6 separate regions of the Homo sapiens genome follow, and all the other regions are reported to be linked to region 3. Evidence: microRNA targets listed by miRTarBase, many of them from high-throughput screens and not tested one by one. Region 3 holds a microRNA gene; each other region holds the end of a gene's coding sequence.

Region 1 (5,067 bases), not on the chromosome of region 3:
CGGCGGCGGGAGCGCGGGCGGAGGCGCGGGCGGTGCCAAGACCTCCAAGGGCTCCAGCAAGAAATGCGGCAAGCTCAAGGCCCCCGCGGCCGCGGGCGCCAAGGCGGGCGCGGGCAAGGCGGCCCAGTCCGGGGACTACGGGGGCGCGGGCGACGACTACGTGCTGGGCAGCCTGCGCGTGAGCGGCTCGGGCGGCGGCGGCGCGGGCAAGACGGTCAAGTGCGTGTTTCTGGATGAGGACGACGACGACGACGACGACGACGACGAGCTGCAGCTGCAGATCAAACAGGAGCCGGACGAGGAGGACGAGGAACCACCGCACCAGCAGCTCCTGCAGCCGCCGGGGCAGCAGCCGTCGCAGCTGCTGAGACGCTACAACGTCGCCAAAGTGCCCGCCAGCCCTACGCTGAGCAGCTCGGCGGAGTCCCCCGAGGGAGCGAGCCTCTACGACGAGGTGCGGGCCGGCGCGACCTCGGGCGCCGGGGGCGGCAGCCGCCTCTACTACAGCTTCAAGAACATCACCAAGCAGCACCCGCCGCCGCTCGCGCAGCCCGCGCTGTCGCCCGCGTCCTCGCGCTCGGTGTCCACCTCCTCGTCCAGCAGCAGCGGCAGCAGCAGCGGCAGCAGCGGCGAGGACGCCGACGACCTGATGTTCGACCTGAGCTTGAATTTCTCTCAAAGCGCGCACAGCGCCAGCGAGCAGCAGCTGGGGGGCGGCGCGGCGGCCGGGAACCTGTCCCTGTCGCTGGTGGATAAGGATTTGGATTCGTTCAGCGAGGGCAGCCTGGGCTCCCACTTCGAGTTCCCCGACTACTGCACGCCGGAGCTGAGCGAGATGATCGCGGGGGACTGGCTGGAGGCGAACTTCTCCGACCTGGTGTTCACATATTGAAAGGCGCCCGCTGCTCGCTCTTTCTCTCGGAGGGTGCAGAGCTGGGTTCCTTGGGAGGAAGTTGTAGTGGTGATGATGATGATGATAATGATGATGATGATGGTGGTGTTGATGGTGGCGGTGGTAGGGTGGAGGGGAGAGAAGAAGATGCTGATGATATTGATAAGATGTCGTGACGCAAAGAAATTGGAAAACATGATGAAAATTTTGGTGGAGTTAAAGTGAAATGAGTAGTTTTTAAACATTTTTCCTGTCCTTTTTTTGTCCCCCCTCCCTTCCTTTATCGTGTCTCAAGGTAGTTGCATACCTAGTCTGGAGTTGTGATTATTTTCCCAAAAAATGTGTTTTTGTAATTACTATTTCTTTTTCCTGAAATTCGTGATTGCAACAAAGGCAGAGGGGGCGGGGCGGGGGAGGGGAGGTAGGACCCGCTCCGGAAGGCGCTGTTTGAAGCTTGTCGGTCTTTGAAGTCTGGAAGACGTCTGCAGAGGACCCTTTTGGCAGCACAACTGTTACTCTAGGGAGTTGGTGGAGATATTTTTTTTTCTTAAGAGAACTTAAAGAACTGGTGATTTTTTTTTAACAAAAAAAGGGACCATTGCAACTTTTGTTAATTTAATTTTTTTTTTTTTTTTTTTTTTTTTTTTTTTTGGAGGGAGAAAACTGATGTCTTCTATGCATCCGATTCTTAACAAAACTGCAGGGAGCTTGAAAAAATGCAGACTGTACAAACGCTTACAAAAAAAAAAACTGTGAACTGACTTAAGATCAGAGTTTACTTTTCAGATCAAATTGTTTATGGTTTTACAAATGTGATTTCTACTTGCCAACTTTTTTTTTGTAACTTGTTCCCTTATACCTCCTTGATTGAATACCAGACAGCCTAGACCTCAGTACAAAAGGTATTGAAACATTTTTGATACATAACAGACCTCAGTCTTTTTTAAAAATTAATATATTTTCAGGCGTATTTTTGTACAGTGAAAAGGGAACATTCTTGCTGTGTTTTTTCAGTAAGACTTTCAGGCACTTCTTCCCTTTTGATTTCTTTTTTTTCCTCTGTTTTTTAGCATGCAAGTATGTTGGTACGTTATGTCCTGGTTTAAAAAGGATTAAAATTTTAAAATAATCCTTGCATCTAAAGGCCTTGTGGTTTAAAAAAAAAAAGCAAACTTTTTTTTGTACAGCTATAGTAGAGATTTGTTCAATATTTGTAGGTAAAGATTTATTGAAAATGGTGATATAGACCTCAGAGCTGTTATCTTAGTTTAAAGATTGTATATGTACTGTACTATAGTAGGACTTTATGTATCTCATACGCTGTGATGTGGATGGGGCCCCAGATGGAAGGTTTGAAACTGGATTCTCGATTTTTAGCAAAAAAGAAAAAAAAAAGGCACATAGTTTAAAAAGTTTCTCATTTTGTGCAATATAATCTAAATAAAGTACAGACCATCTGCATATTTTGTAGCAAATGGTGGCAAAGCAGACTCAATGCACTGTCGACATCATTGCCTGTTTTTTTTTTTTTTTTTTTGTGCTGGAAGTCTGTATCTTGACAATTTTAATAAATCAGCTGGAACTGATAGAAACTCGCATCGCCAATAGTCTCTATGGAAGTCAAACTGGAGGTCCTGTTGTCGCAGAGCATTCGGTGGTGAGGCTGTTGTGTGCGCGGATGAGGGGAGGTGGCAGGAGAGAATTCTACATTTAGGGGGTTAGGCTGAAAAGTGTTCAATTAGCAGGCTGATTTCTTTTTCCTCTTCCGCTAGTTGTGAAAGACAGGGGAAGGGTGTTCTTTCTCTCTGCCCTCCCTTTCCATCTCCAGCTCCCCATTTCCTTTCTCACCTCCTCCTCCACTCCCTGCCTCTTCTCCCCACCCATCCTGGCGGGCGGGCTGCGCGGAGGCTCGGGAGCTGGCCGGGGAGGGGCGGATGGAGGGGCCTGGGTTGCCAGCTCCCTTGGTCGGGGTCCTGCTCGCTGGGGCTTGTGTGTTCTCTGCGGCGGGCCGCGTCCCCGCTGAGCCTCGCGGTGACAGCCGCCTTTGGCAGCGAGCGCTCGGGGCACTTCTATCCCCGCCTCTCAAAGGGTGGGGACAGCCGTTTCCAGATTTGAATTTTTTCTGTTCTTTATTTTTAACGCTGCATCTTCGCGTGTGCTCAGAGGTGGTTGTTGGCGGAGAACGCCGCCGCAGTGTTTGACCTCTAGCGGTGAAGGGGGAAGGGGAAGAGGAAAGGAGAGAAGTGGTCGGTGTCTGTTTCCTTCTGTCCCCCGGGGCCGTGGAGCTGTCGGAGGGAAGGAGGACGGTGCGGGGCCGCAGGGGGCGCGGGGCGCGGCGGGACCCAGGCTACGAGCGGGAGGGAGGCGGGAGTCGGGGGAAGACGCGGCAGGCCGGCCGAGGGCACCCCGAGGAACATGGCATGGCCTCTGTGCGATCCGAGTCGCGGTCTCCGGGGTGCCTGGGAGGGCCGAACCACTGGTGAGGGCGTGGGGAGCAGGGGGTGGCAGAGGGCACCCGGGCGGTAGTCCGGGACGCGCAAGGCAGAGCCCTGACGCTCCGGGTCCCCGTGCCTGGCTCTTCTTGCCTCGCCACCGCGTGCTCCTGGGCGCGCCCCGCCGCGGGCCCTTGAGGCGCGCGGAGACACCAGCGCTGGCTTCCCGGGCCCGCGGGCCGGGGAGGGAAGCCTCGGGGCTGCGGGGTGAGAGGAAGAAAGCAAACCCGGGGAGCAGGCGGCTGCCGCACCCGCGCACCCCGGGCCCTCACCACGCCCTCCCCGCGCGCCGGCTCAGGGGCTGCCCCGGAATCAGCTCCCCGGGGCCGCCGCAACGAAGGTGGATCCGCATCTTGATTGTTCTCCGGGAGCCTCCTGGGGGCTCCGGCGGCGGCGCGGGCGCGACCCATCCCGCTGGCGCTCCCCGCTCGCTGAACCCCGTTTGCCTGTCCACACCCCCTCGCTCCCCACCATTTTTCCTGACCGGCCTGTGTCCCCGAGCCCTCGCGGCAGGCCCGAGCAGGCGATCGCGGCCGGGCACGCGCGCCCCGGGCTCCCGCCCCCCTTCCGAGCATCCGCCGCCTCTTTTCTGCTGGGTCTGGGAGGAGGGAGGCTGGGAGGCCGCTCGGGGCCCAGCGTGCCAGCCCCGGAGTTCAGCCTCCCGAGCTGCGGCGCCCGCAGCGGAGGAGGTTTTCAGTGGCTGATTGAAACTCACTGCAAAATCACCACGACTCTTTCACCTACTGAGATGATTGACCGAGGTTTGGCCTTCCATTTTTACTGAGATTTGGCGAGACCGAATGGAAGCGTCCGCACAGTAACTGCAGCTGCTAGGCCAGAGGGGCCCCGGCGCCCTTCCCGCCTCCCCTCCCGCTTGCTTTTGCCTTACTCGATCTTACCACCACCCCTCCCCCGGCCCCCCGACTGAGAACTCGGGCCTCTCACCCGCCCCCCAGCCTCCCGCTCTGGGCGAGCCTCCTCCCCAGCCCCCACCCCTGGGATGCGAAGCCAGCAAGCTTTTGCTGCAGATGGACAGGTTTCTTTTCTGTGGCTTTTTCCTTTCGATAAACCATCAGATTTCAGTAGTACATTTGGGAAAAGAAGGGGCTGATGGCGTTAACCAGGTTCTCAATATAGAACTGGATTTCTGGAGTTGTTTACCTTACCCCACACCCCCTCAACATGTAGACTAATGCAGCCATTGGTGGTACATTTATTTTAGCCACGGATAATTGAACCAGCGGTTTACAATTGACACGTGCTCCGTGCTGGTGATTTTATGTGGCAGCCCTCTGCTGCAGTTCCGAAACTTGTTGGCAACGTAAACCCATTGATAGGCTGATCTATGTATTTTGAAAGCCTGAAAACTTGGCATGTCTTTTCTGTTTTAATCATAGATGAATCTTGGACATTTTCTGTGGTGAGGTGGAAACTTTAAGTAAATTAGTAAAGTAATAATTTGGCTTCAGAATGGGAAGAGATAGTCAAGATTTTTTTTTTTTAAAGCCATGTGGCCTAACTTGATACAAAAATAAAAGTAATTGTTTGGCAATCTAAATTTAAAACCTGTTAGAACTCAGGACAGGCGCTTCAATGCGCTTTTTAACAATATTTAAGGCTGTTTTGATGAGTGCGTTGTGAGAATCATCTTAATGAATTCTTTATTGAGTGTCTAAAACATAG
Region 2 (5,062 bases), not on the chromosome of region 3:
AGTTCTCTTCTGTTTAAGCGATGACAAAAGACAAATAATTGTAGAGGAAGCAAAGCAGATCTTGGTGGGTGACATTGGTGATACTGTAGAGGACCCCTACACATCTTTTGTGAAGTTGCTACCTCTGAATGATTGCCGATATGCTTTGTACGATGCCACATACGAAACAAAAGAGTCTAAGAAAGAAGACCTAGTATTTATATTCTGGTGTGTAAAAACAAAAGAAAAAAGTACTTTTAAAATGCAAGGATTATTATTATCATAGTCAGTCTTACCTTTGTTTTTCTTATAAATGGGATTCAATAATTTTTTTTTTTTCTGTAGGGCTCCTGAAAGTGCACCTTTAAAAAGCAAGATGATTTATGCTAGCTCTAAAGATGCCATTAAAAAGAAATTTACAGGTACAAACTTGAATATTTGGGGCAGAGAAATTATTCTTTATTAATTATAATAAAGTAATAGGATAATGTTTTTTCTTTTTAGGTATTAAACATGAGTGGCAAGTAAATGGCTTGGATGATATTAAGGACCGTTCGACACTTGGAGAGAAATTGGGAGGCAATGTAGTAGTTTCACTTGAAGGAAAACCATTATAAAATGACAGTCAAGTGCCATCTGGATCTTAAGGAGCTTCCATTTCTCCAGCTCAGTCCATTGGAATAGTATTAGGTTTTGGTTTTTTGTTGTATTTCCCCCTTTCCACTGGGCCCTTCCAACACAATGAATGAAGGAAATATCATTTATTTAAGCAGCCTATCAGTGATTGCCATTAGACTGTTGAATACTGTTACTTTTATATAGAACCCAAGGAATGCCTTCCTGTCATATTTTAGCCAAAACAACTGGTTATATGCCTCCCTTGCAGCAAGCACTACAATGTATGTGATCGTCAATGTGAATAGCTTAGAATACTGCAAAGGATAAGCTAATTGAATGCCTTGAAAGTATTATCCACTGGTCAGATGGTCAACTTTTTTCAGTATTATTTATAGTTGGCACTTGATTGCAGTTCTGTGAGGCTTGAGCATTCATACACCTCACCTGCCTTGGCAAGCCTATTTTAGTGATATGGCAGCACGGATATAACACTATGCATTAAAAGCACTTTTTGTAATAAGTTTAATATCCTAAAAGGAATGCCAATTAAGTTTTGTTAACTGTGTCATCAACTTATCCTAGTACCTCAGTGTTCATTCCTGTTACCTGCATATCTTCTTAAAAGAAATAGCTGTTATTAATGCCTTTTTGTTTTCCATTGAGTGTACACTACTGAATAAGTGTAGGAGTTTTATGTTTACCATGTGAGTCCTGCAACACTAAAGATATTTTGAATATCAGTCATGATGGCAATTTCTGTATAAAAGAGCCTTAAATGGAACATTGTTTTGAGATCAAACTCCCCACCCTCACAAAAATGGCCACGTTGCAATAAAAATTGTGGCATATTACAGAACGTTGCCTTGTTTTCCTTGGAAATTTTGCAAAATGTTATGTGAAACAACTTCTAGGGTAAAAACAGCTATTACTAATCTCTGCACTGGTCATTTGAGAATTTTTTTTGTACAGCATTCATGTGTGATATTTTCCAGATTTGTTGGATCTATTTGGTTTAAAAAGTATTCTATCTTAAGGCCAACTAATATAAAATACCATTGTTAAAGAATGGTACTTTTATAAACATTAGTGTATTTATTTCCTATGTGTTAATATGAAGATCAGAAATTATTTTTTGCACTTTGGCATAAATACTTTTCAATATCTGATTTGTTCTCTGGATAAATTAGCATAGTTATTTTTTTATTCACATTTACATTTCTAAGTAGTTGTATAGTAGAAGCAGGAAGCTCTTATTGCTTATTTGGTCGTAATGAAAATAATTTGTAAAATGTCCTTTAAAAGTTTAATGATACTTCTGATGTTTCGGAACAGTCATTTCACCTACTATTTCTGAATATATTTTGCAAATTGAATTGGAATAGGAATTGATAATAGCAGTCTTAAACATTAGTAGTGGGATTTGGCTATGGTCCAGACTGTGCTCCTTATAGAGAATTTGATCTGCTCAGTGTGAGCGGTTTGCTGTTAGCCAGGGCTATTTATGGCAAACACATGCTTTTGTATCTTGTCATAGTTATCCACAAATGGCAAAACTGGACTTGATTCTACTGGTATGCAAAACAGGCATGCTAGTAAGCAGTCAGTCGTGGCTCAGAACTTAACCCCATAGCTCAGAGGAATGCTTTTAGCAGAAAACAGGAAAGAAAATATCCCTTAAAAATTTTTTTTGAATGTGTGGAAGTAATTTTAGTATAATTAGATTTTTTCCATATTTTTGAAAGATTTTTCAGATGTGAACATTAAAAATAGGGATTAAATGTCTAGGCTTCCATTTAAAATTATATGAATGGTTTGGGATCTTTTTGCACTGAGCAATTTTATTTCAGGCTTCCAGCTGTCCCTGTGAGTTATCCTGGACATTTCGATGGTTTTTGGTAAGGCCAAACTCTGATAAGCAAAACAGAGAATACTGACGTATACTTAACCATATGTGTAACTGATACTTGGCACCATGGAATTTTTCATTGAGTTATTTCCTCATTCTTTTAAAAAATAAGGGACTATAAATCAGTTATGTAGTATCTTTTGTTTTTGTAGCTGATTCCTTAACTTTCTTGTATGCCTCTAGTAATTTCAGAGATTAAATATTGCTTTAAACTGTGATACTTTGATTTGCTAGATTGACAAAACTGATACTAATATAATTAAGTTCATCTTTGAAATACATCTTTGTGCGTAGAGCCAAAAAAAGAGATAAAATTAATAATAGTTCACTTGTTATTTGAGATTAATTTGGCATTTGAAATGATCATTTTATTTTACAATCATTTATAATGAATCAATGTTCCAGTTAGCTTTAAAAGGTATACGGTGCTAATTAGTAAAATATTGAAGGCAATATTTTACTGCTAGCTTGCAAAGTTATGAGAGTTTAAAAAATAAAATATATGAAAATATGTAAAGCTGTTGAGATGTGTTTACTTATACTTCAGAACATTAAAAGTTTAAAAACTGGTATTTCAGATCAAAGAGGCATCATTATCTTTATTCTGTTTTTCAGGATTTTAGTTGGTAATACTTTCTCATTTATCAATAACAATTTTCTTTAAAAACTGAGTGTTACAGCAATTAATTTTAGCATTTTCAGACAAATGGGAACAGTTGGCATGTGTCCCAAACTGGCTATCAGCTGTTGTTTTCCATCATTATCTAAAATAGTGTGGCCAGCATTGTGTATTGAAATGTGCCTTTTTCGTACATTGGAAGAGAAGCCTCTTACTGGGTTTGAGTTTCTCTGATACAGAACATTTGTAGCAGCTAATTTATGGAATCTGGCAAATAAGCTTTGGGAGGAAATTCTTTTAAAAGTGTTTTCTTGTTAAGGAATAATCTCAACAATGGTAAATCATCAAGAGGTTGAGAAGACTCTTAGGTTTGCCACTCAGAAAAAACAGTCTCATTTTGCTCTTCATAGGTCCTGTTTTTGCTTGCACATTTAATAGTAGGTGGAGATGCAAAACAACGTGAATGTTCATTTTTTTATGAATAGTATTAAAGCTACTAGAGGTGGGCAGGCAGGTCCCAGTAAATGTTGCCTTTTTTTTTTTTTTTTTTTGAGACAGGGTCTCACTCTGTTGCCCAGGCTGGAGTGCAGTGTCAAAATTTCAGCTCACTTCAAACTCAACCTTCCCAGCTCAGATGATCCTCCCACCTCAGCCTCCCAAGTAGCTGGGACTACAGGCATGCACCACCATGCCTAATTTTTTTTTTTTTTTTTTTTGTATCTCTTTTGTAGAGACTGAGTTTGGCCATGTTGCCTAGGCTGATCTCCAACTCCTGGGCTCAAGCTGTCCTCTGACCTCCGCCTCCCAAAAGTGCTAGGATTGCATGCATGAGCCACCACTTCAAAAGCTCAAATACTGCTTTTGAAGACAGCATGAGTTTATGGATGTTCTGTCTCCTTTCAGCCCATAAAGAAGTCTGAGGCTTTTCTTTTGCTCTGGAACATCCAACTAATTGCTTTATTTCCATGTAGAAGTAGAGGAATCATCCCTCCACTTAAATTTCCTCTCATAATGCAATTTGGCAAATTAAATCTCTAAATCTCAGTTTTTTAACCCATAGTATGGGAACGGTAATATCTGTTTACCATGTTTCCTGAGTACTAAATATGGAAATGGTTTTTGAAAACAGGAAAATGCTATGTAAATGCAATAATCTGTTTAAACTATTCATTCTTAATTACTGTATGTAAGTAGATAAATATTAAATGTTTTTGTTAAAAGATGTATTACAGATCATTGAACCTCTATTTTTGTAACTTCCGTGTGTGTACATATATATATGTATATATATATGTATATATACACACATACACACACATTTTTTTCTTCTTTTTTGGACAGGGTTTCACTCTATTGCCCAGGCTGCTGTGCAGTGGCACAATCATAGCTCAATATAACCTTGAACTCCTGGGCTCAAGTGATCCTCCCACCTCAAGCTCCTGAGCAGCTGGGATTATAGACATACACCACCATGCCCAGCTAATTTTTTTTTTTTTTTTTTTTTTGAGACAAAGTCTCACTGTATCACCCACGCTGGAGGGCGGTGGTGTGATCTCGGCTCACTGCAACCTCTGCCTCCTGGGTTCAAGCAATTCTCCTGCCTCAGCCTCCCGAATAGCTGGGACTACAGGCATATGCCACCACACCTGGCTAATTTTTGTATTTTTAATACAGATGGGATTTCACCATGTTGGCCAGGCTGGTCTCAAACTCCTGACCTCAGGTGATCTGCCTGCCTCAGCCTCCCAAAGTGCTGGGATTACAGGCATGAGCCACCATGCCCGGCCTGCCCAGCTAATTTAAAAAAAAAAAAATTGTTGAGACGGGGTCTCACTGTGTTGTCTAGGCTAGTCTTGAATTCCTGGCCTTAAGCAATCCACCCATCTCAACTTCCCAAAGCACTGGGATTATAGGTGTGAACCACTGGGCTGAGCCTATTT
Region 3 (5,071 bases):
CTCCAGCCTGGGCAACACAGTGAGACCCTGTTTCAAAAAAATTTAAAAAGCGGAGGCTGCACGGGGTGGCTTATGCCTGTAATCCCAGCACTTTGGGATGCCAAGGCAGGCAGATCACATGAGCCCAGGAGTTCGAGACCAGCCTGGGCACCCTGGCAAGACCTTGTCTCCAAGAAATTTAAAAATTAGGTGGATGTGATGGCGTGTGCCTGTAGTCTCAGCTGCTTTGGAGGTTGAGGTGGGAGGGTTGCTTGAGCCTAGGAGGTGGAGGCTGCAGTGAGCCATGATCTTGCCACTGCACTCCAACCTGTGTGACAGAGCAAGACCCTGTCTCAGAAGAAAAGCCACAGGCCGGGTACAGTGGCTTATGTCTATAATCCTAGCACTTTGGGAGGCTGAGGCGGGCGGATTGCCTGAGGTCAGGAGTTTGAGACCAGTCTGGCTAACATGGTGAAACCCTGTCTCTACTAAAAATACAAAAATATTAGCTGGGTATGGTGGCACATACCTGTAGTCCCAGCTACTCGGGAGGCTGAGGCAGGAGAATCGCTTGAACCTGGGAGGCGGAGGTTGCGGTGAGATGAGATTGCGCCGCTGCACTCCAGCCTGGGTGACAGAGCGAGACTCTGTCTCAAAAAAAAACACAAAAAAATGGGGTGCCCAGGCTGGGCGCGGTGGTTCATACCTGTAATCCCAGCACTTTGGGAGGCCAAGGTGGGCAGATCACGAGGTCAGGAGCTTGAGACCAGCCTGGCTGGTCTCAAAAAAAAAATGGGGTACCTGCTGTGTGGTATGCATCTGTGTTACAGCTAAGTTGGTCAGCCTGGCCAGGATGGGGGCTAGCCCATGGGCTGAGATCTGGGCACCTTCCCGCCCCGCCTGCCTCATGCCCCTGCGACCAGGTGCACTGTCTCCCCACAAGGGGACCGGGCAGGCACAGAGGCGGAGGATATGCTGTGGCTGGTCCACCTGTCTCAGGGGGAAGCATGTCCTTCACTGGTGACACCTAGGCCGGAGGAGGAGAGGGCAGGGCCACGGACTTGCTCTGGGCTCTAAGACTGAGGCCCTGGGCTCAGCTTAGGCTGCAGAGCTCACGGGGCTGGGGCCAGGCTGTGAGGTACACAGGGCCAGGCTCCTTCCTGTCCTTGGTCACAGGGCCACCCCCTTAACCCTCGGGACTACTGTGGCTGGACACCTCTGCACGAGGCCTGCAACTACGGGCATCTAGGTGAGCAAGGGACAGAAGGAGCCTGGCGCACCTTGGTGGACACGTGGGGCGAAGAGTCAGTCCTGGCGGGGCATCGGGAGCTGGGCTTACGTCTCCTGGTCTGCAGAAATTGTCCGCTTCCTGCTGGACCACGGGGCCGCAGTGGACGACCCAGGTGGCCAGGGCTGCGAAGGCATCACCCCCCTCCACGATGCCCTCAACTGTGGCCACTTCGAGGTGGCTGAGCTGCTGCTTGAACGGGGGGCGTCCGTCACCCTCCGCACTCGAAAGGTGAGCCTGGTGGGGCAGAGGGCAAGGGCGAGGTTATGGGGGCTGCTGTGCCCCTGCTCAACTGATGCCACACAGGGCCTCAGCCCGCTGGAGACGCTGCAGCAGTGGGTGAAGCTGTACCGCAGGGACCTGGACCTGGAGACGCGGCAGAAGGCCAGGGCCATGGAGATGCTGCTCCAGGCGGCTGCCTCGGGCCAAGGCAAGCAGGGCGTCCCTTGTCCCTGGGGTTGCTGTGCCTACGCTGAGAGTCCCCGGGCCCTGATTTCGGGAGATGCTCCATCACAGGTGGAGCGGGAGGTGCCGGGCCCCTGCCTCAACACGCATTCTCTCTCCCACAGATCCCCACAGCTCCCAGGCCTTCCACACCCCAAGCAGCCTTCTGTTTGACCCCGAGACCTCTCCTCCTTTGAGCCCCTGCCCAGAACCCCCCTCTAATAGCACTAGACTCCCAGAGGCCTCTCAGGCCCATGTCAGGGTCTCCCCAGGGCAGGCGGCACCAGCCATGGCCAGGCCTCGGAGGAGCAGGCATGGGCCAGCCAGCAGCAGCAGCAGCTCAGAAGGCGAGGACAGCGCAGGCCCCGCACGGCCGTCCCAGAAGAGGCCTCGGTGCTCGGCCACAGCACAACGGGTGGCAGCCTGGACGCCTGGCCCCGCCAGCAACAGGGAAGCAGCCACAGCCAGCACCAGCCGGGCAGCCTACCAGGCAGCCATCCGGGGTGTGGGCAGTGCTCAGAGCCGGCTGGGGCCTGGCCCACCGCGGGGCCACAGCAAAGCCCTTGCCCCCCAGGCAGCGCTCATCCCGGAGGAGGAGTGCCTGGCCGGGGACTGGCTGGAGCTGGACATGCCCCTGACCCGCAGCCGCCGGCCCCGCCCCCGGGGCACTGGAGACAACCGCAGGCCCAGTAGTACCTCTGGGTCGGACAGTGAGGAGAGCAGGCCCCGTGCCCGAGCCAAGCAGGTCCGCCTGACCTGCATGCAGAGTTGCAGTGCGCCAGTTAACGCAGGGCCCAGCAGCCTGGCTTCAGAACCTCCAGGGAGCCCCAGCACCCCCAGGGTCTCAGAGCCCAGTGGGGACAGCTCTGCGGCAGGCCAGCCCTTGGTGGGTATGCAGACCTGGAGCAGAGCCCTCTCCCCACTCCGGGCAGGCAGGTGTAGGGTGGAGCCCACTGTGGCTCCTGACTCAGCCCTGCTGCCTTCACCTGCCAGGGTCCGGCCCCGCCCCCTCCCATCCGGGTTCGAGTTCAAGTTCAGGATCATCTCTTCCTCATCCCTGTCCCACACAGGTGAGGCATCGCCTGCCCTACCCCGCAGCCCACCTGTGCAGCTCCATGCCAGGGTGCTCGTGTTTGCATGTCAGGGTGGGGCGTGTGACGAGGGCTCCCTGGTGTGTTCCAGGAGGATCCTGTGGCCCCCAGGAATAGCAGAGGGGCTGGTGGTGTGCTGGGCTGCAGGGAGAGGAGGGGCCGGCTACCTGGGAATGGGAGAAGCAGCTGAGGGGGCTTCTGGCCCTGGGCAGGGATGGCGGGTCCCTGGGGCATTACCCCGGCTGTGTGCAGGCAGCAGCAGCAGCGCCTCTGTCCCTGCAGCAGTGACACCCACTCTGTGGCCTGGCTGGCCGAGCAGGCGGCCCAGCGCTACTACCAGACCTGCGGGCTGCTGCCCAGGCTCACCCTACGGAAAGAGGGGGCCCTGCTGGCCCCACAGGACCTCATCCCTGATGTGCTGCAGAGCAATGACGAGGTGAGCCGCAGAGCGGAGGGGGAGCCAGGGCCTCAGGCACCGGGAGCCCCCGGGTGGCTCATGGCTGCAGAGCAATGATGAGGTGAGCCGGGGGAGCCCCCAGGTGGCTCATGACGGTGCCTTCCAGGTGTTGGCTGAGGTGACTTCGTGGGACCTGCCCCCGTTGACTGACCGCTACCGCAGGGCCTGCCAGAGCCTGGGGCAAGGTGAGGGCCAGGAGAGCTGCAGTTTCTGGGTGAGGTCGTACAAGGGGGTTGGGCACACAGGCTCCACCAGCCCGGTTCATTCCTGGGCCTCGGGTGTTTTGGGGTGCACCTCCCCCAGCCTGGTGGGTGCTGTGTCCTGCACTTGGATGTGTGGGTGGAAGGGAGAGGACAGCCCTCAGCCCCCATGATCTGCTGACAGGGAGATGGCAAAAAGCAGCCGAAAGCCTGGAAAGTCAAACCCAAGGAGGAGGGCCTGGCATGGGCTGGGAGCTGCTGGGGAAGCTTCCCAGAAAGCTTGTCCCGGGGGGTGTGGAATCTGGCAGTGACTGGTGGAGCTCAGGGTGCTGCAGACCCACCCCGGCCCCCAGGGCCTCACAGTGCTAGACCCACAGGCATGTGCGAGTGGGCTCTACAGCAAGTCTGGTGGGTGACCCCTGGGGCTGTTGAAAAGGGGCTGCCTGGTTTGCCCTCTGGGATTCAGAGGGCAGAAAGGGCCGGCCTTACCCTGGTGACATCACATCCCTCCCGCAGGGGAGCACCAACAGGTGCTGCAGGCCGTGGAGCTCCAGGGCTTGGGCCTCTCGTTCAGCGCCTGCTCCCTGGCCCTGGACCAGGCCCAGCTTACACCCCTGCTGCGGGCCCTCAAGCTGCACACAGCACTCCGGGAGCTGCGCCTGGCAGGGAACCGGCTGGGGGACAAGTGTGTGGCTGAGCTGGTGGCTGCCCTGGGCACCATGCCCAGCCTGGCCCTCCTTGACCTCTCCTCCAATCACCTGGGTCCCGAAGGCCTGCGCCAGCTTGCCATGGGGCTCCCAGGCCAAGCCACCTTGCAGGTATAGGCACAGAGAGCAGCAGGCCCTCAACAGCGGGGAGTTGGGGTTCCCATTCTGCAGGTCCCTGGGTGGTCTAGGGTAGTTGGGAGAGCCAGCCAGTGCCCGGCTGTAATAGGCTATGCCAGGCAAGGTGGGGAAGAGACTGCCAAGCCAAGCCCCAAGGGGGACCCTGTCCGTGGGACTGCTGGGGGCTCACTGCCAGCCTGTGTCTTCCACAGAGTTTGGAGGAGCTGGACTTAAGCATGAACCCCCTGGGGGACGGCTGTGGCCAGTCCCTGGCCTCCCTCCTGCACGCCTGCCCCTTACTCAGCACCCTGCGCCTGCAGGCGTGTGGCTTCGGCCCCAGCTTCTTTCTGAGCCACCAGACAGCACTGGGTAGTGCTTTCCAAGGTGAGCTGACCAGGCACTCCCTGTCCACTCCCTAGCCCTGGGGCATTGAGGGTTTCCAGGACTTTCAGAGGGGGCCCAGGCTGGGCACACAGGGGCAACACCTGTGGTCCCAGCTACTTGAGAGGCTGAGGCGGGAGTATCGCTTGAGCCAAGAGTTCCAGGAAAGCCTGGCCCACATAGTGAGACCCCATCCCTTAAGAAAAAAGCGTCTAGGCCGGGCGCAGTGGCTCACGCCTGTAATCCCAGCACTTTGGGAGGCCAAGGCGGGCAGATCACGAGGTCAGGATATCGAGACCATCCTGGCTAACACGGTGAAACGCCGTCTCTATTAAAAATACAATTAGCTGGGCGTGGTGGCCGGTGCCTGTAGTCCCAGCTACGCAGGAGGCTGAGGCAGGAGAATG
Region 4 (5,062 bases), not on the chromosome of region 3:
GCCTCCCAAGTAGCTGGGACTACAGGTGCGTGCCACCATGCCTGGCTAATTTTTTGTATTTTTAGTAGAGACAGGGTTTCACCATGTTAGCCAGGATGGTCTCTATCTCCTGACCTCGTGATCCGCCCGCCTTGGCCTCCCAAAGTGCTGGGATTACAGGCATGAGCCACTGTGCCCAGCCTGGAAACAGTCCTTTTTAGAAACCAGCCACCACACTGTGAGGAAGCCCAAGCTGCCATGTGGCAAGGCCCTGCCAAGCATTCAGGTAGAGCCACACCACCTGCCACTCATATGAGGGAGGCCATTTTGGACTCTGGGAGAGTCATCCTAGTGGCCCAGCTACCAAGCAGGGAGCGGAAGAATAGCTGGTCAAATCATAGAATCATGAGAAATAATACATGCTTGTTGCTTTAAGCAATGAAGTTTTGGAGTGATTTGTTACATAGTACTAAATAGCACAAACATTTTTCTGCCCGAAGTCCAATTCTTTCCTGTGCCCAGAGCCTCTCTAGCTGGCATGAAGTGTCCTTCCCGAGACCTGTTCAGTTCTGCCCTGAAACTTTCTGTGGCTGGCTCCTACCAAGCTCTTCCCAAGATCAGAACATATCCTCCAGCCCCAAACCGCCTTCACTGGCTGATGCCCTGTGAGGGTCTCTGGGTCAGACAGGACTGGGGTTTGCAAGTGAGGGATGAGGCACAACTGTCCCTGGCCACCAAGGAGAGCCAAGCACAGGATTGTTCCCCAGGCAGGTGTAAGTTTCGTGTGGTGGCATCTGGGTCAGAGTGCAATCTGTCTGCTGGGAACATGGTCTTGTTTGAGCAACCTTCTTGCTTCCCTGCCTTCTTTACACATCTATTGAGCACCTACTGTGGGCCCTTCCTCCCAGAGGTGCTAGGGGAGACAGTAGAGGTGATGAGGTCACTGTCCTGGCTCTTGGGGTTCCACAGATGGGTGGGGGAGAAAGCCCAGATGTGACCAATCACACTCAAGGTATCAAGTGCTGCGAGAGCTGTGGGGGTGTCCACAGAGGCCTCTCTGGGAGTAGGGGTGTCCCAGCCGTTGGGCACAGAAGAGGGGTCTGGCATCTGCAGACTGCATTGTGACCAGGGATGAAACTGGAGCACAGGGGCCTGTGGGGGTGGGGTGGGCTGGGTGGTGAGGAGCCTCGAAAGCCAGAGCGAGAGCACCCTGGGACCTAGCCCTGGGGAGCCAGGAAGTGACAGGAGAGGACCTGCTTCAGGTACGTGTCTCCAGCAGAAGAGACAGGTGAACGGAAGGACACACAGATGGACAGAGAGCAGGAAAGGGTCCAGGGAAACAGGGAAGAGGAAAAAGGCGTTTCGGCAGCACTTGGACGCGGTCACTGTGGTCATTGCCGCACCTTGGCTGCAGGGGGCTGCTTGCCTGGGCCCACAAGACCAGACCAACAGAAAGTGCCTCTGCCCAGGAAACTTACTGCCCGATGCTGGGAAAGAAGGAAATGTCTTCATTAAATCATCAAAGTGAGGGTGCGCAAACCACCCTGAAGCAATTCTGACCGAGAAGATGCTGCATCAACTTGGGGTGGGGGGACAACTGAGCCCCTTGCGTTTCCGTGGCGACCTTACTCTTCTGTCCTCCCAGGCCAAATATCAAAGTTCGAGAGGCCACAACTATGTCAGTCAGGGTGTGTGGGAATCAGCTGGCACATTGCAGGAGGTAATATGAGGACGATTTAATCAAGGACCATTTACAGAGGTGGGGGTGTACGTGAGGCAGTACAGCTCTAGCTCAGAAGCTGGTAACAGCTGGACACCACACCCACCCCCGCAAACATATCCTGGAGGCCCGAAGGGGCAAGGGAAGGGAGCTGTGGAGAACGACAGTCCACCATGGGCAGGTTCTCCCGTCCTGTGAAGCTTATGCCCAGCAAACCTGGTCTTCCTAATGGACCCCAATGCTGTCTGCCCGACCACAGGCTGCATTTAGTGGACCAGGCTGGGGGCCGCAGTCGGGAGAAGGGCCTTCCTGAGTACGCAAAGCTATAACTACAAGAATGGCCACTGCAGCACCATTGGCAAGAGCTAAAAGCTGGACACAAGCCGGATGGCCCGCGGATGGGGAGGGTCAAATGAACTACAATCCATCCACATGAAAACTGGGCGCTGCTACAGGAAGGAGGCTCCTTGTGTGCCATCAGGGAGAGGCCTTGGCGCCAGCTCCCTAGGAAGGCAGGCTGCCAGGCAGTATGTCCAGAAGGAGCTCACTCTGGTGAAAACAACAAACAAGCCATCAACACTAGCTGTGCAGGCAAAGGCACAGAGTCCAGAAGGAATAGTCCTGACTGTTAGCAGAGCTAACAGTCTTTCCTGCTCTCTGTCCATCTGTGTGTCCTTCCATTCATCCATCTCTTCTGCTGGAGACACTTCAGGGGCGCAGCTAATGTGGCGGGGGGGGGGCTTTCACCTTGTATTTTATATGCTTTGTACTGTCTTTGTTCACACTAAACATACAACCCCTTTAAAAGTCATTTATGGAGGCCGGACGCGGTGGCTCAGGCCTGTAATCCCAGCACTTTGGGAGGCCGAGGCGGGCAGATCACGAGGTCAGATCATCGAGACCATCCTGGCTAACACGGTGAAACCTCTCTCTACTAAAAATATAAAAAATTAGCCCGGCATGGTCACACGTGCCTGTAGTCCCAGCTACTCGGGAGGCTGAGGCAGGAGAATGGCATGAACCCGGAAGGGGAAGCTTGCAGTGAGCCAAGATCGTGCCATTGCACGCCAGCCTGGGTGACAGAGACTCCATCCCGCCGCCCAAAAGAAAACATAAAAATGAATAAAATCATTTATGGCCGGGCATGGTGGCTCACCCTTGTAATCCCAGCACTTCGGGAGGCCGAGGTGGGCAGGTCACCTGAGATCAGGAGTCCGAGAGCAGCCTGACCAACATGGAGAAACCCCATCTCTACTAAAAATACAAAATTAGCCAGGCATGGTGGTGCATGCCTGTAATCCCAGCTACTTGGGAGGCTGAGGCAGGAGAATCGCTTCAACCTGGGAGGCAGAGGTTGCACTGAGCCGAGATTACGCCATTGCACTCCAGCCTGGGCAACAAGGGTGAAACTCCATCTCAAAAAAAAAAAAAAGTCATTTATATAAAAAACTACAAAAAATATGTTGAAGGGGGAATGAATAGAAAAAGATGCCAGTGTTCTTCCCTAACTGGTATTTGGCAATCGCTGAGCTGAACATTTACAGGGCAGCTGCAGTGTGCCAGGCCCTAGGAGAGCAGTACTGATCAGAAGGCTGCCTGCAAGGTGCTCGCCATCTACGGGAAGCAACAGCACGAGACGGGTGGGATGAGTGGGCATAGCCAGGTGACAGGGGCCTGGGGCTGTGGGGCTGGTTCATAGCAGTGAGAAAACCCTGTGGATGAGCATACTGGGCAGAGAGGCTGGGGAATGTGTGGGGTATTTCTGTCTGCTCTGCATGTGCAGGAGGCGGTGTTGGAGACAGGAACATGCTAGACTTGGCAGGGCCTCTGAAGTCCTCTAAAGGTGCATGGACACCATTACAAAGGTCCTAAGAGATGTATAGGCCAATGAGAGAGGGATGGAGAGGCAGCAGTGGGCACAGGCCCAGCATGAGTGCCAGAGGAGGGCAGTGCCATGTTCAAGGGCTGCAGAGTGAGTTACCCTAGGACAGCTGTGCAGTCTGCCTCCCGCAGCACACAGGTAAATGCACTGTCCAGGTGGGCCAGAAAGGCCTGAGTGGTTGTTCTGCACATCCTGGCCCACGGACCAGGAGGGCAGGACCTAGGGATCTCAGAGGTGCCAGAGATAGCCCTTCAGCCAGAACAGGTCTAAGAGACATTTTGTCCATTGTCCTCCAGAGGTGCTGGTCTGCCCAGGAACCTTGAGCATCCGTGGCAGAAGGACAGTGAGGCCTGAAGCTCTGAGACCCAGAACCATAAGTCCTGCTGACAACAGAAAACTCCCAGGGGGAATGGCAGGTGGCCTCTCCTTCAGGTGCTGACTTTGACAAGTCCAGGTTGCCTGGAACACTGTGACGGATCCTGGGGACACATCCAAGATCGCTGGGAAAGAGTGCAGGGTTGACTGCTGATGTGGGCCATGGCCGAGTAGTATAGACCGACGCAGGAGTTTGCAGTTCTGAGGCCTCTTGAGGCCAAAGGTGACTGTCTGATGACCCTGCAAATGGACTGGCCTTTTATGGGATCACCACAGTGCCTGCACTGGCCCGGTGGTGTGGGGCTCCCAGGCAGCCAGTGGGGGCCTTTTCTAGTGCCCAACCTGCAACGGACAAGTGACTGTGCCCTGGAGCTGAGCCCGGTGGGTGGGTGGAGGGACTGGAACATGGGCCTACAGCTTGAGGGCGACACGCTGCAGAGCTTGGGCTCCAGTCTCCACACCACAGTCACGGAAATTCCTGTCCGTGTGTGTGCAGGGAGCGGAGGCCTTCCACGCAGGCCCCAGTTAGCAGCAGCCCAGGCTGGAGGGCCTCTTGCTCTCCTGGGTCTCGGGCGGACTCCCTTCCATTTCTGTAAGGAGGGGAGAAGTAATTTAGCATCAACCAGGAATCCTGTAGCTGACACTGGGCAGGGGATGCCGGCCCTGACAGTCAGAGCTGTGAGCTGAAGCTTCTGGGCCTGCTGTTCAAGGCCTGAATGGCCTGACACAAGCCAAGAGAGGGCCTTCCAGGCACTGGAACAGAGAGGGCAAAGGTGCAGACTGGGAGAGCCGGGGCCAGGACACATCTGCAGAGCCTGGGACGCCCAGCCTGGGCTATGAGGACCTCATGGATGCCCATGAGGTCCATGTGTCAGGAGAACAGGGAGGGCTAGGGAGGGTGTCTGACCTGGCAGGTGGAATCAGAGGGGCTACAGGCCTGAGGCTGCAGTGACACCCTGAGAGGAGGGTCAAAGGACAGGAGAGGGCCACAAGTTCAGGAAATGGCAAGGCCTCAGGTGACGAGGATGGCGCATGTGGATTTTAGGCCTCCAGCCTACTCCCCAGCCCAACCCAGTCACACCTATACTCACGGATTAGGTCTCCAT
Region 5 (5,071 bases), not on the chromosome of region 3:
TGAGTCAGAGTTTGGCTCTTGTTGCCCAGGCTGGAGTGCAATGGCATGATCTTGGCTCACCACAACCTCCGCCTCCCGGGTTCAAGCGATTCTTCTGCCTCAGCCTCTGGAGTAGCTGGGATTACAGGCACCCACCACCATGCCTGGCTAATATTTGTATTTTTAGTAGAGACAGGGTTTTAGCATGTTGGCCAGGCTGGTCTTGAACTCCTGACTTCGTGATCCGCCCACCTTGGCCTCCCAAAGTGCTGGGATTACAGGCGTGAGCCACTGCACCTGGCCCCCCGGGTTTTTTTTTTTGTAAGCAAATTTACTTTATTTCCTCCTGCCTCGATTCTTGGTAATTTTTTGGGTCAAATTTATTAATCAAACATTGTCCTGATTTAAAATCATGCAGTGAAGCTTAGGAGCAACCAGTGTCTTCCACGAGTTTAAGGAAGGTTTTTCTTTCTTCTTGGCGTCTTGACAACAGCTTGAGGGAGGGTGTGGGAAGCGCACAGGCCCCATACCCATACCCGACAGAGGGCCGAGCCCAGCCCCGACAGCTTCCCTTCCTTGCTGGGACACAGCTCCTTTCAGCAGTTCAGGGGCCAAGCCTGCTGCCCCAAGGGTGTGGATTCCAGCTCTGCCTGCACAGCTCCTGCTGGTGCCAAAGCCGTGTCACCCCTGGTTGGCCCCGTGACCAGGGCTCGAGGGATTGTGCTGTGGTGTCTGAGTGTTTTGTTTTGGTTTTCTTCAGCAAAGTGAAGGTGCTTTTTAAGTTCACCAAGGTGGACAGTCGACCCAAAGAGGACACACAGAAGCTGCTGAGCATCCTGGGTGCGTCCGAGGAGGACAATGTCAAGCTGCTGAAGTTCTGGATGACTGGCCTGAGCAAGACCTACAAGTCACACCTCATGTCCACGGTCCGCAGCCCCACAGCCTCGGAGTCTCGGAACTGACCCGTCACACACACCTGCCTAAAGACAGGGATGGCTGTCCACAGGATCCTCCAGCCCCGTGAGAGGGACTGTCCCTTGAGTTTCTCAACTGCTGGAAGGAGCTGTGTCCCAGCAAGGAAGGGAAACCATCAGGGCTGGGCTCGGCCCTGTCAGGTTTGGGGCCTGTGTGCTTCCCAGACTCTCCCTCCAGCCGTTGGAATCGCTGAAGATGGCAATGAAAGGCGGAGGGATGATGGGCTCTCTCTGTGTTCAAACTCCTTGGAGAGACGACTAGGAGGACAGCTTGCCTCCCAGGCCCCTTGTGGACTTAGACTCAAAACCCGCAGGAGAAACAGGTCCGACTCAGTATGCAGTCGCAATAACATGTCTGCTCCCGAGGTTAACATTCAAGCGTTTCTACTTTGAAATTCAGCAAGAGTTTCTGGGCCTTATGTTTGAGGGTACCTTTTGCTGCAGTTGTGAATATTCAGTACATTGCCAGCTCTTGGTCACTGAGTGATTGAGTTAGGGCTCCGCAAGAGACTTTGGGGAGTGAAGTGGATCTCTTCCTCATCTTTTGGTCCTCTGAAATGTGTGTTCTGAAGCCATGGGGCTCGTCTTCTGGGGTGTTCCCCTGCAGGTGCTGGTGAAGGTAACCTGGGGCTTAATGATGGAGTCCCTGATCATTTTTGCACAAGACAGGTTGCTGAGGGGTCGGCAAGCATCTGACTTGCCCAATCCCCTGGATATGGTGAGCCCCGCCATGCTTTTATTCTGTATCGCTTTTGTCTTTATTGCTGCTTTCAACATTTACGTTTGGTTACAGTTAACTATTTTCGGAGTGTGGTGATTGAAGACAATTTCATCATCCCACTGTACTTTTTTTTTTGAGAGGGAGTTTCACTCTTGTTGCCCAGGCTGGAGTGCAATGGCACGATCTTGGCTCACTGCAACCTCTGCCTCCTGGGTTCAAGCAATTCTCCTGCCTCAGCCTCCAGAGTAGCTGGAACTACAGGTGCCCGCCACTATGCCCAGCTAATTTTTGTATTTTTTAGTAGAGACGGGGTTTCACCGTGTTGGCCGGGCTGGTCTCAAACTCCTGACCTCAGGTGATCCACCCACCTCAGCCTCCCAAAGTGCTGGGATTACAAGCGTGAGCCACTGTGCCTGGCCCTTTTTTTTTTTTTTTTTTTTTTTTTTAAAGAGATGGCATCTTGCTATGTCGTCCAGGCTGGTCTTGAACTCCTGAGTTCAAGCAGTCCTCCTGCTTCAACATACAGCTACAGGTACCCCCCACTATACATTTTTAATAAGGATTCATGGCTCAGAGGGATTTTCTGATGGTTTTGCTGATTTGTTTCTAGTTTTTTTGTGTTTATATTTAACATGAAGACCAAGTTTATATAACTAGGTATCTGTATAATGCAACAACATTGGAACACAATAAAGATGTATTTTTGTAAATTGTTACTACATGGTTTTATTGGTTTGATGCCTACTATTTATTTGCGCTCAGGCACAGGAAATACTATGGTTAAAAAATACCAGTGAGTCAGCCGGGCGCAGTGGCTCATGCCTGTAATCTCAGCACTTTGGGAGGCTGAGGCAGGCGGATCACGAGGTCAGGAGATCGACACCATCCTGGCTAATACGGTGAAACCCTGTCTGTACTAAAAATATAAAAAATTAGCCAGGCATGGTGACAGATGCCTGTAGTCCCAGCTACTCAGGAAGCTGAGGCAGGAGAATCACTTGAACCCGGGAGGCAGAGGTTGCAGTGAGCCAAGATCACACCACTGCACTCCAGCCTGGGCAACAGAGTGAGACTCCATCTCAAAAAACAAAACAAAATACCAGTGAGTGGCCAATTCGCACAGTTAAGCTGCTATAATGATCGTAGACAATCTTCTCCAAGTTAGTCGTTGGAGTTGGTGTTGGAGAGAAGCAAACACTCATTTATCCCAAGGACATCTGTTGAGTACCTATGCCCATGTGCTTTTCATTTTGTTCAGCATTAGAAATGGCTCATCCCTTAATAATGATGATATTTAAAAGACATGTCCATCTGAGAGGAAGATGGCTGGAATCACCCTGGGTGACCGTGGCAATCCCTAAAACAGCAGGTTCACGGTTTAGTCATCTACCTCGAGTGGGAGGGGACCCCCTGGCCAATGTGGGTCAAGGGAGAGATGACCACCCACTGTCCTCCCCGGCTTCGGGTACAGATTCCTGTCTTTCTCTCGTGCATGGCATTCCTGGGAACGTGGTTCTATGCTCAGTTTTTGCCAGTTGTCTGCCAGTCTAGTGGCTGAATCCACTTGGCAAGTAGGAGCCCAGTGTAAGTTAGCTCTGCATTCACTTCAGGGGCATGTGTGACCTGGATTTCCCATGTCTAACAGAGCTTGCTGGCGAGGGGGCAGGCAAGGCCCTATGCCGACTGGTGGTTTTGTTTTTGTTTTTGTTTTTTGAGACAGAGTCTTGCTCCGTTGCCAGGCTGTAGTGCAGTGGTGTGATCTCGGCTCACTGCAAGCTCCGACTCCCTGGTTCAAGCAATTCAGCCTCAGCCTCCCGAGTAACTGGGATTACAGGTACATGCCACCACACCCGGCTAATTTTTGTATTTTTAGTAGAGATGGGGTTTCATCATGTTGGCCAGACTGGTCTCGAACTCCTGACCTCGTGATCCGCCCGCCTCGGCCTCCTAAAGTGCTGGAATTAGAGGGGTGAGCCACCGCACCCAGCTGCCAACTGGTGTTTCTAGGCAGCTGTGGGCTTTTTCTCCCCACAGGCATGCAGTTCTTGAAGATTTTTCCTATTGGTCATGAGTGCAGAAGAGCAGGAGGCTGAGCTGAACCTATGCCAGCCCAAGACCAGGCCAGACTCTGCTGTCCTTGTGAGGGAATAGGGGTTCCTGATTTTGTAGCTTTTCACAAAATGGAAGAGACAGAAAACAAGTTCCAGATCTTGAACCTTCCCCATGTGTTTGAAGGCAGTCAAGGGTTTCCTGATTTTACATTCAAGATACTTACACTCAGGGCCGGGCATGGTGGCTCACGCCTGTAATCCCAGCACTTTGGGAGGCCGAGGCAGGAGGATCACCTGAGCCCAGGAGTTTGATACCAGCCTGGCCAACATGGTGAAACCCCGTCTCTACTAAAAATACAAAAAAAAAAATTAGCCAGGCTGGTGGTGTACGCCTGTAGTCCCAGCTACTCAGGAGGCTGAGGCAGGAGAATCACTTGAGCTCTTATATATTGTGGAAATTAACCCCTTATCTGATAATATAGTTTGTATAAGCTTTTAAAAAATAAATTGTATATATTTAAGGTATACGACATGATGTTAATGACATACACACACATATTAAAATGGTTATTATAGCCAGGCACTGTGGCTCACACCTGTAATCCCAGCACTTTGGGAGGCCAAGGTGGGCGGATCACCTGAGGTCAGGTGTTCGAGACCAGCCTGGCCAACATGGTGAACTCCCATCTCTACTAAAAGTACAAAAATTAGCTAGGCGTGGTGTCAGGCACCTGTAATCCCAGCTGCTCAGGAGGCTGAGGCAGGAGAATCGCTTGAACCAGGGAGGTGGAGGTTGCAGTGAGCTGAGATGGCCCCATGGCACTCCTGTCTGGGCAGCAAAGCGAGACTCTGTCTCAAAAAATAAAAAATAAACACAAACGGCCAGGCACGGTGGCTCACACCTGTAATCCCAGCACTTTGGGAGGCCAAGGTGGGCGGATCACCTGATGTGAGGTGTTCGAGACCAGCCTGGCCAACATGGTGAAACCCCGTCTCCACTAAACATACAAAAATTAGCCGGGCGTGGTGGTGGGTGCCTGTAATCCCAGCTACTCTGGAGGCTGAGGCAGGAGAATTGCTTGAATCTGGGAGACGGAGGTTGCCGTGAGCCAAGATCACGTCACTGCTGACAGAGCAAGACTCCATCTGAAAAATAAATGAATAAAAAACTAGGCCGGGCACGGTGGCTCACGCCTGTAATCCCAGCACTTTGGGAGGCCGAGGAGGGCAGATAGTGAGGTCAGGAGATCGAGACCATCCTGGCTAACATAGTGAAACCCCATCTCTACTAAAAATACGAAAAATTAGCTGGGCGTGGTGGCGGGCACCTGTAGTCCCAGCTACTT
Region 6 (5,068 bases), not on the chromosome of region 3:
TGTTCTCTGCTCCTGGACTGCAGCCCTGCTGGGCCCTCTGTCTCCTTTGGTCCTGCAACCACTGCAACCTCTGGGCAGGAGTTTCCTGGTATTTTGGATTCTTTCTTCAAACCCATTGTCGACTTCACAGGCGGCAGGCAGGAAGGCAGGGCTATGTGTGCAGAGACCCTCCCAAATCAGCAGTCTGAGTCAAGGTTATGGGTCTTTGCTTTGTGCAGTGGGTTGGAGGGGTGCGGTGCAGAGAGATGTGTGTGTGTGTGTGTGTGTGTGTGTGTGTGTGTGTGTGTGTGTGGAGAGAGAGGGAGAGAGAGAGAGTAGTGCCTACAGGAGAACAAGAGGGTGTGATGGGGGAAGGTCTTGTCATGCTGATATTGTCCAAACTTTTAGAGTTTGTAAAGGTGCAAGAGCAGAGTGGACAGGACTCTGTCCAAAGAGGCTCCAAAGCTGAGTCCAAGATGGGCTTTAGGAAGGATTGACTCAGATCTTCAAGCCTTTTTGCCTTAGACAGAGAAAGGCAGCTCCATACACTCCCTTCCCTGCACTGCCACCCCTCAGAGCCCCTCTCTCCCCTGCCTTTCAAAGACCTGTGATTTCATCCTATGGCAAGACCAAAACTTACTTTTTTTTTTTTAAGGGATGGGGAATCTTGTAAAATTTTTATGCCAAACAAAGTTATAAAAACTTCCTGGGCGTTGCCTTTTCCAAAGGTTTATATGAATAATAAAGAGTGCAGTCGCGTGCACTGGTTCTGGCGGGCTCTCAGTAGGGAGGGGTTAGCAAACAGCATTATCCAACCCTGGGGCACCAGAAAACCCCAGTAGCTCCCCCCTTCAGGGAATACTGGCCCAGAAACAATTGCCCTACGGATTCCTGAGAGAGGCGGGGAAAGCGAAGGGGTGGTGCCCTTGACTCCCTTGAAGTTCAAAGTTCTTCTTTACTCTTAAGAGAAGAGCCCTTTCTGCTCTCAGCCCACTCGAGAAATTAGCCCAAGGTAGTTTCTCCCCTTCTGGTTGAGAACTGGCTCTAGGTATTCCCAACTCTGTTCACCTTTCAGACACCTGGTTTGCACCTTTTGCTCCCCCAGAACAGGGCTCCCCAATCTTTCCATCTGGGACAACTAGAGCCAGGGAGTTTTCTCTCAGAGGTGCTTGGCAGGGGTTTCGAGTCTTCTTACAAGGGGCCCTTGCATCGCCATTCCTCAGCCACCTAAGAGTCTAAGTGACAAAGAAACCCCAAACTCAAGGCTACTCCTAAACCCATTTCTCATTTCGAGTGCCCTTGATTCCTCCTGCACCCCAAAGCCCATGGTGGAAGGGGGAGGGGCCCAGAGTGCTCTCTCAGCCCACACCACTTAATACCCTTGTAAACTCCCACGTGCACTATAAACTTGGATTTTTACAACCAGCATTCCTCCTTAGCTCCGGGAAACTTTGAACTCGGCCTCAGGTTTATTTACTGGGGCGGGGGGGTGGGGTGGGCGCGGCGGGGAGGAAAGGGGCTGGGGTGCTGGGAGCTGAGAAAGGCTGGAGAAAAGAGGAAAAATGTGGGGCAACGGGCTGAGGAGGTGGGGGTCTGAGTGTGTTGGGAGAGCCAAGACCCTCCACTACAGGTTTGTTTACTATTTAGGGCGGAAGTGGTTTCTAATACAGGCCAGACTGGGTCGTTAAGGTCGAAATGAAACTGGGTTTAGAAACGTGAGGGGGTGCTTTATGGCAGCGTCTAGACGAGGATCTTTTGTTCCCGGGCAGTGCTGCGGCTAGAGGGGATTACCCCAAGAGGTTGAGCCCAGAGTGCCCCTGACCTGCAAGGGGGGTTGGACACCTTGGGAGACGGAAGGTGGGTTTGTTTGGGGGCCAAAAAACCCTTTTTCCTCCTTTTTAGAGGGTCACCAAGGACTGGCAGATTCCTGGCTTGGGTCACAGAAGCCTTTGTTTTTCTTTCATGATGACCTTCTCCTCTCATCCACCAGAACTCTCTTTTGGAGCTGAGGACATTTCTGGGCTCCACATTGCAGAGAAAGTGTTACCTGCGGGTTTTAAATATTTTTCTCCAAAATCAGGCATTTGGAGGCTAATATTTTGCTTTATAAATAGGTTCACCTTATAGAGTTTCCTCTATCCTAATTTCACAGGAAACATCACCAGCAGGCTAATATTTCCTAATGTGGCTAGTGGATAAACATCATACCTAGAGAAGTGTCACACACACATACACACACAAAAATGTACAGAGGCCCCTCAGTTGCATTCCTGCCCACACTCAACAAACACTGCCAATGGTTACACACCACAGAGACACAAGCTCTAGATGTGTATGTGGTCAGGTTTACTCCATGCAACAGACAAAAGCATATAAATAATATTCCTTCTTATGTGCACCCATAGGCACACCGAGTTAAATAAAACGTTTGTGTGTGGGCACATGAGGGAATTGTGGGCTGCATATACACCCTAGTTTGCAAATCTTGTCTCACGACCCGACCCACGTTTACAAATTAGAAATTTAGATACCTAAGCTGCAGGGATTCCTACCATCAAAAATGACAGAACCTAGATTTGATAGTCATGATGCTTTTTCCTTTCATCCAACAGAATTGTATTGACAAAAATATTTTCTTTGAATTATACAAAGACAGAAAGAGGAGGGAAAGATGAGATGAGTTGTCCTGAACCTCTGCCCCCAAATAACGAATTTGAAACAGAGACCAACGAAGTGCCCTCACTGAAAGCACTGCAAGGGCCATGATTATCTTTATACAGAAGAAACATGCAGCAAATATAGATGGGTATGGTGACTGTCCCCGCAGGTCATCTCCATCCCCAGTGCCAACCCCTACAAAACAAACCTCTGGGGCTTTCTACTGTGGGACACCCAATGTATAAACATCAGGGTGGCCCCAGTATAGGCGTCTTGTTGTGTCTGGAAGAGCCTGGCCATTTGTGCCAGAGGGAAAGCAGCCAGGCCCCACCTTCCCACCCCCAGGAGCTGTGGAGAGGAGAGGGAGGGGGCTGGTTTCTCCTTCTGTCCCCTCCTTCCTTAAAAACAGTGTATAAAAATTCCAATACAGATTTCTCCTAGAGAAAAAAAAAAAAAAGCCCTAACCTCCACACTACACATTTAACTGCGACAGACGGAGACATCTGGCAGAAGGGCGGTGGAGCCAAAAAAATTCCTATAAATTTAAATTCGATGATGGTTACAATTAACTCCACAACAAACGTGTACTTAAACAGAAAGCCGTTGCTGGGCGTTTGGACACAGCTCGAGCTGCACGTGAGAAAGGAGAGCTTCAGAGTAGCTATGGAATGTCCTCAGCTTGAGAATGTGAGGAGACTACGGCCATACTCTTGGCCCTGCCAGCGGAGAGGAGCTCCAGGCCGGCTAGCACCGGCCTATCTCACCTCTGCCTGCCTGTCCTCACCCGCTGGGCTCTGCCTGCCTGCCTCCTCCTCCTCCGCCGCTGCCATGGGAGCATGGAGGATTTTAAGAGGAGAGGGGTTAATAAAAGGGTCAAATAAAATCATAATATTGAACAGAATGAAATTTATCTTTATTTGCCACCAAAAAAATTTCACAGCAATCCCTCTGGGAAGGGAGCAGGGTGGGGAGTGCACATGTACACACGCACTCACGCAGAGGAGTAGAGATGCGTGATTTGAATCTCACTGGGGGCGTCCCCCCCTTTCCCTCCAGGTGGAAAGAAACGCTTGGGAAATTTATTTACAAAAATCCAGGCCCCAGCACGGGGGAGGTGCCCAATCCCATCTCCCTACTGCCTCCACCACCCCAATCTTCAATTTTCTTAAAAAAAAAAAAAAAAGAGGTAACGACTGCATAGACTATAGCTATAAATCCATGAAGTGGGGCACTGCTTGGAAAAAGATGTGGAAACCTCAATGCACCGATTAAGAAATTTCAAAGGAAGGTTCTACACATTCAGGGGGAGAACAACTAGGCTCGGGCGGGGCCTTGGCGAAGACGGAGGTAGGACACGGACTTTGCACACCTAACACCAGGTTGAAGGTACAGAAATTTCACAGCAAGGCAGGATCACATTTAGCTGCAAGGTGGGGCGGGGTAGAGGGGGGAGCTCGAGAAGTTTCCGCTGGCAGACATGCTGTCTTAGCGGATCTTTTCACATGGGCAAGGGAAGGCTTTTAGTTCGAGGATTGTTCGGCTCAGGCGCTCACTACTGTCGCCCCTCCCCCACCTAATCCGAGCAGCAAGACATTGTCGCCGAGGTGTGTTTTCTTTTAAATCAAAGTCTTGGCCTCGGCGCCAACGGTGTTCACTCGCCGTGCATCAGACACTTCCCTTCACCCCCTTTCCAGGCCCGGTCCCTGTCCCACAGCGAGAGTCAGATAGAGGGTCCAGGAGGTTCCGGAATGGAGTGCCGGCCACAGCGGTGGGGGCCAGCCCTGGCCACAGTCCAGTTTTCCACCGGCGGAAAGAAGACGAGTTAGAAAATAAAAAATAAAAATAAAATAAAATAATTTTCCCCTCCCCCCGCCCCCAAAAGGGCCCGGTCTGCAGGTTACAGCAGAGGATTTCCCGAGAAATACTGCAGCCGGTCTCTGCTCAGTTTCTTTTCTTTCATCCTTCTGTTCTGAAACCAAATTTTCACTTGTCGGTCCGTCAGGTTCAGCATCCGGGACAGCTGCAGCCGCTTCTCTTTGTTGATATACACGTTGAAGAAAAACTCTCGCTCCAGTTCCCGGATCTGGAATTTCGAATAAGGGCAGCGCTTCTTGCGGGTGCGGGGGGCGTCTGGAGGGAGGGGAGGGGGCAAGTGCGAGGAGAGGGGGGAGAGAGACACGTGAGACCCGGGCGACCCCAGCCCGCTGAGCGCTCAGCGGCCCTTCTCCTAGCCCACCGCGGGCAGCCCTCCCGCCAGGCGGCTGGCTCTCCTGCAGCCGCAGCACCCGGGCAAGCCTCGACCCCCTGCCAGGTCTAGCGGGTCCCCACCCCCCCGCCACTGCGCCACCCCGTCCCCAGTTCTCAGGCGAGAGCCGCGGCTGACAGGGTCTGGGACAGAAGGAAAGCCCTCCAGGTACACGTGCGTCCCCTC

What was found. Region 3 holds the annotated microRNA hsa-miR-6893-5p (CAGGCAGGUGUAGGGUGGAGC, at 2,641-2,661, shown strand). A microRNA usually pairs through its seed, bases 2 to 8, with sites in the 3' UTR of a target mRNA and lowers its output. Matches are read on the target gene's strand: a 7mer-m8 pairs with bases 2 to 8, a 7mer-A1 pairs with bases 2 to 7 and ends in A, and an 8mer does both.
Region 1: miRTarBase lists SOX11 as a target of hsa-miR-6893-5p. Seed matches in the 3' UTR shown: 7mer-m8 at 2,755-2,761.
Region 2: miRTarBase lists CFL2 as a target of hsa-miR-6893-5p. Seed matches in the 3' UTR shown: 7mer-m8 at 1,041-1,047.
Region 4: the mRNA of RAB36 is a reported target of hsa-miR-6893-5p. Seed matches in the 3' UTR shown: 7mer-m8 at 3,019-3,025, 7mer-m8 at 2,701-2,707, 7mer-m8 at 2,210-2,216 and 7mer-m8 at 745-751.
Region 5: the mRNA of FLCN is a reported target of hsa-miR-6893-5p. Seed matches in the 3' UTR shown: 8mer at 955-962 and 7mer-m8 at 1,902-1,908.
Region 6: the mRNA of HOXC11 is a reported target of hsa-miR-6893-5p. Seed matches in the 3' UTR shown: 7mer-m8 at 4,043-4,049.

The regions. Positions count from the first base shown.
Region 1 is chr2:5,693,156-5,698,222 of GRCh38, forward strand. SOX11 (SRY-box transcription factor 11) reads left to right here. Exons shown (of 1, transcript NM_003108.4): 1 at 1-5,067. The coding sequence ends at 892. Among named protein-coding and RNA genes, the nearest start is that of SOX11, 3.3 kb to the left of the region's middle. RefSeq lists silencers at 3,452-3,541, 3,832-4,001.
Region 2 is chr14:34,708,399-34,713,460 of GRCh38, reverse strand. CFL2 (cofilin 2) reads left to right here. Exons shown (of 4, transcript NM_138638.5): 2 at 1-207; 3 at 325-401; 4 at 484-4,348. The coding sequence ends at 596. Among named protein-coding and RNA genes, the nearest start is that of CFL2, 3.7 kb to the left of the region's middle.
Region 3 is chr8:144,433,184-144,438,254 of GRCh38, reverse strand. MIR6893 (microRNA 6893) reads left to right here and starts at 2,636; the gene lies at 2,636-2,704. TONSL (tonsoku like, DNA repair protein) reads left to right here. Exons shown (of 26, transcript NM_013432.5): 14 at 1,156-1,228; 15 at 1,335-1,498; 16 at 1,574-1,697; 17 at 1,837-2,597; 18 at 2,705-2,781; 19 at 3,085-3,238; 20 at 3,366-3,444; 21 at 3,976-4,277; 22 at 4,496-4,667. It overlaps TONSL-AS1 (TONSL antisense RNA 1), which reads right to left and starts at 3,087. Exons shown (of 6, transcript NR_109770.1): 1 at 2,815-3,087; 2 at 1,260-1,504; 3 at 509-556; 4 at 1-27.
Region 4 is chr22:23,160,984-23,166,045 of GRCh38, reverse strand. RAB36 (RAB36, member RAS oncogene family) reads right to left here. Exons shown (of 11, transcript NM_004914.5): 10 at 5,048-5,062; 11 at 383-4,546. The coding sequence ends at 4,482. It also overlaps a transcript of RSPH14 not described here. Among named protein-coding and RNA genes, the nearest start is that of BCR, 17 kb to the left of the region's middle.
Region 5 is chr17:17,209,525-17,214,595 of GRCh38, reverse strand. It overlaps FLCN (folliculin), which reads left to right. Exons shown (of 14, transcript NM_144997.7): 14 at 740-2,384. The coding sequence ends at 941. Among named protein-coding and RNA genes, the nearest start is that of PLD6, 5.7 kb to the right of the region's middle.
Region 6 is chr12:53,974,880-53,979,947 of GRCh38, reverse strand. HOXC11 (homeobox C11) reads right to left here. Exons shown (of 2, transcript NM_014212.4): 2 at 2,305-4,767. The coding sequence ends at 4,535. It overlaps HOTAIR (HOX transcript antisense RNA), which reads left to right and starts at 4,994. Exons shown (of 7, transcript NR_186241.1): 1 at 4,994-5,050. RefSeq lists enhancers at 518-1,032, 4,522-4,671, 5,002-5,068.